Homo sapiens: one gene and its partner. The protein of the gene in region 1 purifies or fractionates together with the protein of each later gene. This does not show direct contact. Each region holds a gene or a part of one and is shown on either strand. Other genes may lie near its edges.

The links.
Region 2: the proteins of AIRE (region 1) and GDPD3 purify together in Homo sapiens (affinity purification with mass spectrometry; 2 studies listed by BioGRID and IntAct, with this or other methods). This does not show direct contact.

Annotation. Positions count from the first base shown.
Region 1 is NC_000021.9:44,288,787-44,292,435, reverse strand, and holds part of AIRE (autoimmune regulator), read right to left. Parts: intron 2,780-3,649; coding exon 2,634-2,779; intron 2,449-2,633; coding exon 2,368-2,448; intron 1,342-2,367; coding exon 1,226-1,341; intron 135-1,225; coding exon 35-134; intron 1-34. UniProt on the Homo sapiens protein: Transcription factor playing an essential role to promote self-tolerance in the thymus by regulating the expression of a wide array of self-antigens that have the commonality of being tissue-restricted in their expression pattern in the periphery, called tissue restricted antigens (TRA).
Region 2 is NC_000016.10:30,107,302-30,110,564, forward strand, and holds part of GDPD3 (lysophospholipase D GDPD3), read right to left. Parts: intron 1,132-3,263; coding exon 1,072-1,131; intron 964-1,071; coding exon 912-963; intron 1-911. UniProt on the Homo sapiens protein: Hydrolyzes lysoglycerophospholipids to produce lysophosphatidic acid (LPA) and the corresponding amines. Shows a preference for 1-O-alkyl-sn-glycero-3-phosphocholine (lyso-PAF), lysophosphatidylcholine (lyso-PC) and N-acylethanolamine lysophospholipids.

The sequences.
Region 1 (3,649 bases):
GGGGTGGCCCGGCTAGGAGGGGGCGTGGCCATACCGGGGTCTCCACGGGTGGCTCCTGGGGCCGGGGCTCCTCTGCCCGGGGCTGCACCTCCTGGACTGTTGCCTGCAGGCAGCTGGAGCACCTCCAGGTCCCACTGCTCGTGTGTCCACCAGTCAGAGACATGCAGAACAAGACAGCGGGTGACAGATCCCCAAACCCACGGGTGGAGCTCCAGGGCTCCGACCATGTCTTTTCACAGAGGGGGAACCGAGGCACAGCAGAGAGATGGGCAGAGACACAGGAAGGGAGAGCCCAGCAGGGGGACATTTACCCTTCGTGGGGTGGCCCTGGCCAGCGTGATCAGGGTCCCCTTGGCGTGCTCTCTGATGAACCCCAGGAATCCCCAACACCTGCGAGCCCTGGTGGCTTTGCCTGCCTCTCAGGGCTGGGCCCTGCCGGGGGCCTCCCTAAACTGACCCACCTGTTAAGGGGAATGGCACCCAGCAGAATGGGGAGGTGATCAAGGGCAGAAAGAGACGGCAAGGAGGAACGGCTTCAGGAGCCGAGCAATGACCCCCACTGTGCCCCTTATTCTAGTGATGAGGCACAAGGCTGAGAGGGGGCCTGATGACGGCCACTCAGGGGCTGGGGCAGAGCCTCGCCTGAACGTGGGTCCCCACTGCACCCAGAGCTCTTCCTCCCACAGACTGCCACGTCCTGTGGGGTTGGAATGGGGGCAGGGCTCGGTGGGCCGTGGGGAAGGAGCACCGGGATGTGAACGCAGAGGAGGCCTCCCGCCCCCACTAAGCCCGGCGTCCTGTGCATTGGTGGACAAACTCCCACCTGCCCTGGGGGGCACAGCTCTGTGGCCTCTGTGCTCCCCAGCCCTGTCTGGAGTGGGACTCTGGGGTGGGGCTTGGGGGTGGGGGCCGGCTACCCATGGGGGCGTGGGCTGCAGCCTGGGATGAGCTTGGACAGGGTGGCATCTTCGCCCTGGGCCTCTGTTCTGCTTTGCTGCCCTCAGGGGCCCAGCTGTCCAGGCTGGGCAGCAGGTGTGGCCAGACCGGGAGGCAGGTGGCAGGGTGGGAAAACCCCAGGCCCCGGCCCCACGGCCCAGTGACCTGACTCAGAACCCCTTTCCATCTTGGATGGGAGAGGCTTGGGGTGGCTTCCCTTCAGGGTCAGTGGGTGGAGGCGGCCGTGAACCGGGGTGGCCTGGTTGCGCTGGCAGAGGTGCAGGCTCACCTGGGGATCTCCCGGAGCGGAGGGGACAGGCAGGCCAGGTGGAAGGCCCGAGGGCAGCCGTCACAGCAGATGAGCTCCCCGCCGTCCCGACACACGGCACACTCGTCCTCATTCTTCTGGCACAGGCAAGAGACGCCCATGCAGACTGGGCTGGGGTGCAGCACCCTCCTGAGAGCCACCTCCTTCCCAAAACAGCTCCCCCAGCAGCATCTCTGGGTACCTGAACTCCCCAGTCTCTGCCCTGCTCCCATGCTGCCAGGGCCTGAAATTCTGCCCTGACCACCTGTTCCCCATCCATCTGGTCTCCAACAGACACCCCCCGGGGCCATCCCTATTGGGAAGAAAACCCGGTTTCTTGCAGGCTGCTGCGTTCCAGGGGCCCCGGAACTGTACACCAACCACATGAACCCTTCCTCACAGGGCAGTGGGGCCAGGCCCAGGGAGGTCTCTCCCGACCTCAGCGCCTGCTGAATCCTCCACCTGCAGCCCCCACCGTCCTTGTGCCCTGCCTGGATGGTGCCTGCTGTGCCTTCAGGGGTCTCCCAGGTACCACTTCCTCCAGAATCCCCCCAGACAGCCAGGCTAGGCTGGTCCTGCACGGCAATGACCTCACTCATTCTAACAATCCCCCAGACGCCCACCAGCCCGGGTGCTCCTGCAGGGCAGGACTGGCTCCTGTCACTGCTAAGTGCCAGGGCCCCACAGAGCCCCTGGTGCCAAGTGGTCAAGATCTGTAACCCACCACGGCAGGCACCCCCCACACTGCTTCTACCCCATTAAGAAACCATGCTGGGGACGAAAGATGAGCATGGCATTCCCAGTGGATCCTTGACCTCCTGGCTATAGCAGGGGCGCCCGGCCCACCCACGGGCCCAGCTGAGAGCAGCGGGTACAGCCTGGACCAAACGCCATGCTCTTAAGAGCCTGAGAAGACCTCACTTTCTCTGACTCATTTAAACTATTACCATTGCGTATTATCAGGAAAAAAATACTGTCTATTAAAGAAAAAGAGCTGTACCCTGTGGGTAGGGGCTCAGGCCCCGGTGCTCATCCCTGAGTGCCCAGGTAAAGGCAGAGGCAGCAGGACCCACCCGAGGGGAGCAAGGGCAGACAGGGGCCTCTCCTGTGGTCTAGGGCATTACCTGGTGGAGCTGGGGGTCACTGGGGAGGGCCAGAGGGGCGGGAACGCTGCCCTGCTGGCCCAGCCTAGCCTCACCTCCACCCTGCAAGGAAGAGGGGCGTCAGCAATGGGGGCAGCCTCAGCAGCGAGGGTGCACATGGCTGTGGCACCAGGCGTCTCTCGGCAGCAGCCCCCAGCCCCCAGCAGAGCCACTCCCCCAGAGGCAACGCTGTTCCTGGGGCGGGGGGCATCAAGAGCCAGGCTCCCCAGGGAAGGTCAGGTGCTTACGGGGGCAGCGCCCTGGGCTCCCTTGGCTCGAACCAGAGGCTTCGGGCCACTGCTGCTGCGGGCCTTGTTCTTCCCACTGCCGGAGTCTTCGAACTTGCTGGGAGTGTAGAACTCCCCGCCAACCTGGATGCACTTCTTGGAGCCGCCTGGGAGGAGATGCCGGCTGGTCCTGGCTCACCCGCCCAGCAGGACCTGCCTTGGCAGTCGTGTAGGCCCCAGGGTGGGGTCTAGCAGAGACAGGTGGAGTTCCCACAGCCTGCATTCCTCCAGCCCGCCCCCACCCCAGTCGAGTCTGGGGCCCGGGGATTGTCCTGGATCTACACCAGGGTGTTCAACAGCGTCCCCCGAAGTTCACGTCCACCCAGAACCTCAGAGTGTGACCTTACTTGAAATCAGGGTCTTTGTAGATGTGATTAGTTAAGATGAGGTCACACTGGACCATAAGTTCAATGACTGGTGTCCTTATAAAGAGGACACGTGGGAGACAGCTGTGAGACCACAGAAGCAGAGGCTGGAGCGGTGGGTCCTGAGCCCAGGAACAAGGAGCACAGGGGTACCCCCATAATGACCAGCAGCTGGGAGACACAAGGAAGGATTCTTCCCTGGAGCCTCCAGAGGGAGTGTGGCCCCGAGACACCTCGATGTTGGCATTTCTGTCATTTCAAGCCTCCCAGTTTGTGCCAATTTAACCAACAGCCTTAGGAAGTAACACAGTGGGCCTTGGGACCATCCAGAGGTGCAAGACCAGGGCCCTGGCTGTGCTTGGTGTTCCCAGCCCATGTCCAGCACCGAGGAGACACCGTGTCAGGGACTTGAGATGGAATGCCCCGATGGCACGGTGGGTCTGCCACCAGCGGCCCTGCTGTGCCCTGGTCAGATGGCACTGGTGATTGCATGGGGTCAGCGGCTGGCCAGGGAATGGCGGGCGAGGATGCTGCAGGCTGGCCAGGGTATGGGGGGCAAGGACGCTATGCTACAGGCTGTCCTGGTTGAAGAATGCCGATACCCTGGAGGGT
Region 2 (3,263 bases), on another chromosome or scaffold:
CTCAGTATGTTGCCCAGGCTGGTCTTAAACTCCTGGGCTCAAGTGATCCTCCCACCTTGGCCTCTCAAAGGGCTGGGATTACAGGTGGGAGCCGTGCCCAGCCTCTGCCTATGGCATTTCTTCCCTGTACCCTTGATGGGAAGCTCCCACCCCTAGTACCATAGTGCCTGGAACATTCTCAAGGATCGTTTACTAATTAAATGATCTGGTGGAAGCCAATGCTCAGGGGAGAGGGGGGTGGGCTGGGCCTGGTTTCTCCCATCTCTCATCTTTCCCCAGCCCCCTCTCATCAGGGATCATGATACATCATTGTTGTCATCATAATGGCTAACATTTATCAAGCCCTTAATAAGTACTAGTTACATATCCATATGTTGGCAATGTCAGGTTAAGAAAATATGTGCGTGGCCAGGCGTGGTGGCTCACACCTGTAATCCCAGCACTTTGGGAGGCTGAGGCAGGTGGATCACTTGAGGCCAGGAGTTCGAGACCAGCCTGGCCAACATGGTGCAACCCCGTCTCTACTAAAAACACAAAAATTAGCCAAGCATGGTGGCAGGCACCTGTAGTCCCAGCTACTGGGGAGGCTGAAGCAGGAGAATCGCTTGAACCCGGGAGGTGGAGGTTGCAGTGAGCCGAGATTGCACCACTGCACTCCAGCCTGGGTGACAGAGTGAGACTCTTGACACACACACACACACACACACACACACACAGAAGAAGAAAATTGTGTGTGTTCGTGTGTGTGTGTGTGTGTATCCAGAGAGTTAAATATACCATTTTCCCATTTTAGGGACGAAGAAACTGAGGTGAGGTCACCTGCCCGAGTGATGCAGCTAGTTGGCAGCAGAGTGGGACCGGAACCCTGCTGCCAGGTCTGTGTGCGGTGGAAGTGGTGGTCACGGCCTCACCTGCACCCCTCGCTCCTCCAAGTGTCGGATCAGACTCTTCCTCATGATCAGCCTGGGGGTGGGGTGGGGACGTGGGAGGTGATGATGAGAGGGGACCTGGGAGAAGGGCAGCAGTAGGTCTCTATGGGGACACGCCACCCAGCCATCTTGCCCACCTCACCATTTCGAAACCACAGCCAATAACTGGTTCAGGCAAGAGCAGGAAAATGGGAAATAGGTCCTGCAGAGAGAAGGAAGTGGGGGTTAGCTCCTAGGGTCTCCCCTGTCCCAGAGGTGGGGTGGGCTGGTAGTGCCCCCGCCAACTAGGGTAGCGCTGCCCTCCCACCCCCCAGAATCCCCCAGAATAACCTTTGTAGTTGCCCCAGTGAACAATTCACCCATTGTTCAGAGAGCCTACTCTGACCACCACGCTTCAAGGGTGTGGCCCTCCAGTCACCATTCACCAGATAAGGAATCTGGGCCTTAGAGAACGAAAGGGACTTGCCAGACCCAAAGCAGAGTGGTGGTGGGGCTGGGCCAGGGCCTCGCTTGGTTCCAAAGCTGGACATCCAGGCTGCAGGCCCTCCTGGTTGGGCCTGGCCAGCTTCTTATTTATCTATTTATCTTATTATTAATTTAAATTAATTTTTTTTTTTTTGAGACAGAGTCTTGCTCTGTCGCCCAGGCTGGAGTGCCGTGGTGCGATCACAGCTCACTGCAAGCTCCGCCTCCTGGGTTCACACCATTCTCCTGCCTCAGCCTCTTGAGTAGCTGGGACTACAGGTGCCCGCCACCACGCCTGCTAATTTTTTGTATTTTTAGTAGAGACAGGGTTTCACCCTGTTAGCCAGGATGGTCTCGATCTCCTGACTTTGTGATCCGCCCGCCTTGGCCTCCCAAAGTGCTGGGATTACAGGCGTGAGCCACCGTGCCCGGCCATTAAAAAATTTTTGTAGAGACATGTCTCACTATGTTGCCCAGGCTGGTCTTGAACTCCTGGACTCAAGCAATCCTCCCGCTTCAGCCTCCCAAAAGTGCCAGGATAATAAGCACGAGCCAGCCAAGTGTGGTGGCTCACACCTGTAATCGCAGCACTTTGAAAGTCTGAGGTGGGAGGAGACCAGCGTGGCCAACATGGCGAAACGCCGTCTCTACTAAAAATACAAAAATTAGCCGGGCGTGGTGGCAGACCCTGTAGTCCCAGCCACTTGGGAGGCTGAGGCAGGAGAATTGCTTGAACCCAGGAGGCGGAGGTTTCAGTGAGCCAAGATCGCACTACTGCACTCCAGCCTGGGCCACAGAGTGAGACTCCTTCTCAAAAACAAAAAACAATGGCCGGGCGCGGTGGTTCACGCCTGTAATCCCAACACTTTGGGAGGCCGAGGCGGGTGGATCACCTGAGGTCCGGAGTTCAAGACCACCCTGACCAACATGGAGAAACCCTGTGTCTACTAAAAATACAAAATTAGCCAGGATGGTGGTGCATGCCTGTAATGCCAGCTACTTGGGAGGCTGAAGCAGGAGAATCGCTTGAATCTGGGAGGCGGAGGTTGCGGTGAGCCAAGATGGCACCATTGCACTCCAGCCTGGGCAAAAAGAGCAAAACTCCGTCTCAAAAACAAACAAACAAACAAAAAACCCACAAAAAACCTCGTGAGCCACTGTGCCCATTGGCCAGCTTCTTGAGACCAGACAGCACTTAGTGGGACGACCCCTAATTATCCCACTCCAGGGGTGACTTTAGAGACCCTTGACAGTGTCCTAGGGCAGGCTCTGGAGTCAGACCCAGGGAAAACCTAAGCTCTGGATTTCCAGCTGTGTGTCCTTGGGCAAATTACAGAACCTCTCTGGGCCTCAGATTCTCTAGGGTACCATGGGAGTCATGATTCTTATACCTCCTGGGGGTGCTGCAAGGTAAAAGTCAACCCAAAATATGTTAAAACACTTTATAAATCTTGTATAAGGCCGGGCGCAGTGGGTCACGCCTGTAATCCCAGCACTTTGGGAGGCCGAGGCAGGCGGATCATGAGGTCAGATTACCATCCTGGCTAATACGGTGAAACCCCATCTCTACTAAAAACACAAAAAAATTAGCCGGGTGTGGTGGCGGGCGCCTGTAGTCCCAGCTACTCGGGAGGCTGAAGCAGGAGAATGGCGTGAACCAGGGAGGCAGAGCTTGCAGTGAGCCGAGATCACGCCACTGCACTGCAGCCTGGGCAACAGGGGAAGACTCCTCAAAAAACACAAAAAAAATCCGGTATAAAAAGGTGGTACACAAATATCATTGATCTCTTTGTAGCAAGGTATTGTGGGGGCTGAGTGGGACTTCCTTCTGGACAACAGAGGGGAGCAGAGAGCTCTGGGACTACCACA